Regions from separate parts of the Homo sapiens genome. Here region 1 is linked to region 2. A link means that fine-mapping ties the variant in region 2 to the plasma level of a protein whose gene starts in the linked region. Region 2 holds a variant in brackets. A gene starts in the other region. All regions are shown on their forward strands.

The links. A credible set is the group of variants that fine-mapping cannot tell apart. PIP is the posterior inclusion probability: the model's chance that the variant is causal. The UK Biobank Pharma Proteomics Project read protein levels with antibody pairs (Olink). The fine-mapping took linkage between variants from a reference panel, not from the people measured, so its PIPs are less certain.
Region 1: KLK15 starts here. The variant in region 2 is the best candidate, but not a certain one, in a credible set for the plasma level of the KLK15 protein (UK Biobank, PIP 0.80).

What each region holds. Positions count from the first base shown.
Region 1 is chr19:50,832,250-50,835,280 of GRCh38, forward strand. KLK15 (kallikrein related peptidase 15) reads right to left here and starts at 1,325. Exons shown (of 6, transcript NM_017509.4): 1 at 1,278-1,325. All of the region lies in intron 2 of LOC105372441 (a long non-coding RNA gene), which reads left to right.
Region 2 is chr4:23,895,168-23,897,667 of GRCh38, forward strand. It overlaps a transcript of PPARGC1A not described here. Among named protein-coding and RNA genes, the nearest start is that of PPARGC1A, 6.4 kb to the left of the region's middle. The variant C/T (reference allele first, on the strand shown) is at 1,019.

The sequences.
Region 1 (3,031 bases), not on the chromosome of region 2:
CACCCTCCATGGATCCTTGGCACCACCAGGATAAAGTCCAGCTCTTCAAATTCACTTTCTTTCTTTTTTTTTCTTTTTTTTTTTTTTTTTTGAGACGGAGTCTGGCTCTGTAGCCCAGGTTGGAGTGGAGTGGCGTGATCTCCGCTCACTGTAACCTCTGCCTTCTGGGTTCAAGAGATTCTCCTGCCTCAGCCTCCCAAGCAATTGGGATTACAGGTGTGTGCCACCACGCCCAGCTAATTTTTGTAATTTTAGTAGAGACGGAGTTTCACCATGTTGGCCAGGCTGGTCTTGAACTCCTGACCTCTAGTGATCCACCCGCCTCAGCCTCCCAAAGTGCTGGGATTACAGGCATGAGTTGCCTGGCTCCAGCCTCACTTTCAAGGACAAAAGTGGCTTCTTCCCTTCCAGCCCCTCTCCCTGGGTCTCCCATGACCTTGTCCTAGACGCAGCCAGTGCTGCCATTTTCCCTCCTGCCATTTCATGCTTAGGCTATTCCTCCCACCGCATATCCAACGCCATTCCCTTCCAGCCCCGCTTCCTCCTTGAGGCCTTCTCTGACCTCCCCTGACCCTCAGTGGTGTCTGCCTCCCCTACGAGACTGGCAGCTCCCCGAGGAGCTGGTCTGACTCCACTCTGGGTCTCCAGTACTGCAGGGCCCGACCCACGGGAGGCCTCAGGAAGCTTTGAGGGTGAATTGAAATCCTTCTTCCCCATATCTTCCAAATTCATCTTTGTCCTCTGACACTCTGCCCCCACCTCTTCTGGGAGGCCCCAACACCTAACAGGTGTCTCCCCTGAATCCCACAGCACCCATTCTGTCTCCATTACAGCGCAGATGCCCCATACTTGCTGAGGTCTGGCCTGTTCTTTTCTCCATCTGGGGGTCTTGAAGATGGGGCTCAGGTCAGGTTCTTTCTGTGACCTCAGCACTGCCCCACCTGGGGCCTGGTACACAGGAGGCCTCCGGGAGGTTGTGCTGAACTGACTTGAACCCGTGATCACTCCTGACCACGTTCTTGGCTCTGATACAAGTACTTCAGGGACGTCCTCCTGATCCACTCCATCCCCCTCCCTCCCCACCACTGCAGCTCCTTCTGGCCATTCCAGGACATTTTCTTGGTTCAGGTTCAATTTGGGGCATTGGTAAAGGACACGTGGATCTACCCATGCCCTTGACACTCAGTTCTCCAAGCGTGGTCAACGTTTCCCCTTGAAACCAGGGCACAGTGAATCTCCCCTTTGCCCCTCCCTCAGTCTTGTCTCAAAGCTCTCACCTCCTCCAGATCCTCCAGCAGCATCTAGGGCAGCTTGGGTGCCAGAAGGGAGCAGGTACCAGGATGCCTGAATTTATAAGCTCCCAGTCCCAGCTGGGTCTGGGGGTGTGGTGGTGTAGGGTGGGGTGGGAGGTGGCTGAGAGTCAGGTTTACAGGCAGAGACGCCTTGGTTGCTGGTGGGGTGGGAGACTTGGCCTAATGAGCATTTATTAGGTTGAAGCTGTTGTCTGAGTCCACAAAGAGGAATTCTCCACCAGGAGCAGTTCCTCAAGGGGGAGGGGACAGGAGGACAAAAACAGAAATTAGGAGGAGATCAAAAGACAGAGTCTGGAATTTGGGGTCTGGAGTGTGGAAACTGGATCCTAAAGTCCCTGTTCTTGGGCTTGGGGCAGAGTTCTGGATCCCGGGTTCTGGATCCGGATCTGGTTCTGGATCTGGGTCTTGGATTCTGGATTTGAGGATCTTGAGTTGGAGATTAATGACCTGCAGTCTGGAATATGGATTTCAAAGTCTGAGTTCTTGGGCTGGGGGTCTGGAATCTGGATCCTGGAGTCGGGCCTTTGAGTGACAGATCGTGAACCTTGATTCTGGATCCCGGGGCATTCGAATCTAGAACCCACAATAGGAGCCTGGAATCTGGTGTTTGGAATCTGGCAATCGAGGCTGGAAACCTTTGCACCTGCTATGAGAAGCCTGGGGCCTAGACTACAAATGGTAGATTTGGGATTTTGAATTGTGGGGTCTGGATTCTTTTTTTTTTTTTTTCTGAGATGAAGTTTCGCTCTTGTCACCCAGGCTGGAGTGCAATAGCGTGATCTCAGATCACTGCAACCTCCACTTCCTGGGCTCAATAGATTCTCCTGCCTCAGCCTCCTGAGTAGCTGGGATTACAGGCGACCACCACCACGCCCAGCTAATTTTTATATTTTTAGTAGAGACAGGGTTTCACCATGTTGGCCAGGCTGGTGTCGAACTCCTCATCTCAAGTGATCCACCTGACTCAGCCTCCTAAAGTGCTGGGATTACAGGCGTGAGACACCATGCCAGGCTTGGGGTCTGGATTCTACAGGGTGGATCTAGCCTCTGAGCTTTCAGGAGTAGACTTTGGAACATACAGTCTGGAGTTTCAAATCTGTTTTTGCATTGAAAACCTGGACTGTGGCTGGGCCCAGTGACTCATGCCTTTGGGAGGCTGAGGTAGGAGGATTGCTGGAACTGAAGGGTTTGAGACCAGCCTGGGCAACACAGCAATACCTCATCTCTATGAAAAATCTAAATAAATAAATAAATAAGTAAATAAATTTTTAAAAGGCTGAATTGAGAGACAGGGACCTGGCTTTCACGATTCTGAGATTGCTAGAATCTTGACTCTAGAGTCTGAATTTAGAGTCTGGGAACCCAGGGTCTCTATTCTGGTCCTGTAGTCTTATTTCTGGGTTCTAGAGCTTGAAATCTGGATTCTGCATCCCAGAGGCTGGAGATGATCACTGAGATGACCCAAGGCTTTGGGTATTTGAGGCTGGCTTCCAATGTCTCAGAACCCCAGAGGGCCCCAAGCAATTATCTAGAGTCTATTTTGGCTTAATTAATGAGGAGGTCCCAAGACAGGAGGGACTGACCTCACTCAGGTCACCCAGTGAAGGATGGGACCTGTTGTAAGCGTGGTCTCTCCCCATGTGTGGAAAGTCATCATCTTTATGGGAAGGATTCAGCCATTCTAGAACTACAGGCCCCTGGAATTTCTAGAATATCAG
Region 2 (2,500 bases):
AAAAAAAAAAGCAATCAAACCATTCCCGTGATACTTATTTTTTAGTGCTTGAGTACTAATTAGCTTAGCTTTTCTCGATCTTAGAGAAACAAAACAAAACTGTATTTTGCAAATAGTCTCAAAAAGGTAACAATAAATATATATATTTTTTTCTTTTTCTTTTTCTTTTTTTTTTAATACCACCAGGCAGAGTCTTGGAAAGATTTTTGGTTATTTGACTTGTGTTTCTGTTATGGGTTTTTCCAGTGCTTTGATATTTGAATTTTGCTCTAGCTAAACTGATATGTATATACATATATCCCAAACATGTCGGAGAGGTAGAAGGGAAATAAATTCTCATCTTAAGAAGCAATTAGCTTTGAGGTCTAAGCTCAGTTTTGTGGTGACAGATAAACTCTTACTTTATATTTGCTAGCCCAATTAGACACAAGACTTTTGAGAAAACATCCTTAACCAAGACGACCGCTTCTAGGATTGACCTCTACATTTAGCAGCTCAATCGAAAAATAGATGTCAGATACTACTGGTAGGATTATACTGGGTATAATTTTTATACAGAGCAAGCAGGCAATATATATTCAAAACTTCTAAAAACCTCATAGACCTAGAACATCTACTTCTAGAAATTCATCCTAAGGCAATAATAAGGGAATGTGTACAAAGATTTTTCATATTAGGATGCCCAATGCGACATTATTTGCATTATTGAAAACTTGAATGCAATGTGAATATCCAACATTAAGTGACCTGGTTCAATAAATTATAGAGATGTGTGTGTGTGTGTGTGTGTGTGTGTGTGTGTGTGTGTGTGTGTATATATATATACACACACATATTTATATTTAATATTATCATTAAAATCAGTTGTAAAATATATTTAATAGCATAATGGGAGAGTGTTCAAAATACATTAGGGTTTAAAATGAAGCTTGAAAAAACTATAATCATGAAAAGTTTACCTGTAAAAATATATCCTCAGAAAGAAGAAGAGGATGAGGAGGAAATGTAACAAGCTGTT[C/T]GTAGTGGCTGACGACGTTATAAGTACTTTTTACGTTCCTTTATGTGAATGTGCCTTTCTGTAATTTTCAAATTTTCTCTTATAAACATGCATGACTTTTATATTCAGAAGAAGAAGAATTATTCAGTTTTGAGAGGAACAGAGAGATTCAGTATTAAAGCCATGCCTGCTTAACATACTGGGAATGTAGCAGATAGAAATAGCCCCTGACGCCCAATATTATATCTCAAATATGCATCATATATTTAAAATGAAGCCATTTCTGCCTGTCATACCAAGTCCAACAGCTGCTCCACTTAGGATGCAAAGCTCATGAGCAACACTGAGGGAAGTTAGTACCTGGTATACTTAGAAATCCCAGAATTATGGAGAGAAGGAAGCTATCAGCTACTATCAGCTTGCCTCAGAGGTAGACCCAAAACCACTAACCCCCAGACATGACTACCATCTTCCCTTTGTTTCTCAATCTGAAATTTAATCAATTGTAAAGTCAATTTTCTCTTTAAAAATCTTAATTAGCCCGGGTGGGGTTAAAGAAACTTCATTCATTTATACAATAGTAAATATTTTCAAGAATGGTATAAATAAATAGGTAAGAATAATTCTTGAGAAGAGGGTCTACCAACTAACTGGGGAAAAAAGGAGGGGCCACCAGCAAAGGCTTAGAGAAAGAGTGTTTGGAGACATGGCTTCCACTGGAGATGACTGAAATTGATTTGACCAGGAAAATGCAGTCCCAGTTTCAACCCGGTGACATACAAGTAAATTTCTGGAACACAGCCCATCCCTAAATGTGAAACAACCTGTGTAAATGCTGCCATGTTGCAGCCCCGTGCTTGGGCAGAAAGCTCATGTTTGGCTTCTCAAATATCACAAGAGGGGATAACTCACTTTCTTTCCCCTGGAAGGTCAACTATATTCATAGGAATGAAAGCTTTATATCAGCCAATTTGATTTCATGTTCTCAAATTTCCTGGGCCTTTTCTGCAGATCATTCTTCCTACACATGGGTGTTTGTTATTTTGACCATTAAGAATATTTGTAAGAAGAGGAGTAATGAGGTTTAAACCAAAGTCAGCCAGCCTTATGAGATTTAAGGTGAGTACTGGAGACTCAAGTCTATCTGACAGGTGGAGTCACTTTGAGGATCTTGATTCAGCCCAAAATGAAAGGAAAGTGCATGGTAAGAAGAACATGGCCCTCATTCAGCTATGTCACTTGCCAGCAATTTGACTTTGGGTGATTCATGTAATGATACTGAGCCTCGGTTTCCTTATCTGTCAACAAAGATGGCCGGATTCAATTAAATCAAAGATCTCTGCCAGATCTAAAATGCAGTGATGTGCCTGTCTTGACAGAGACAGACAACTCAGGAAGCCTTCTTTGCACAGGGTGAATCCAAATGTCTCATTTCACAAAGATACTGGAAATCAGAGATATTGTACAAGAAAGGCAACTGGCGCTCAGTGTTGCTGAAAGAGC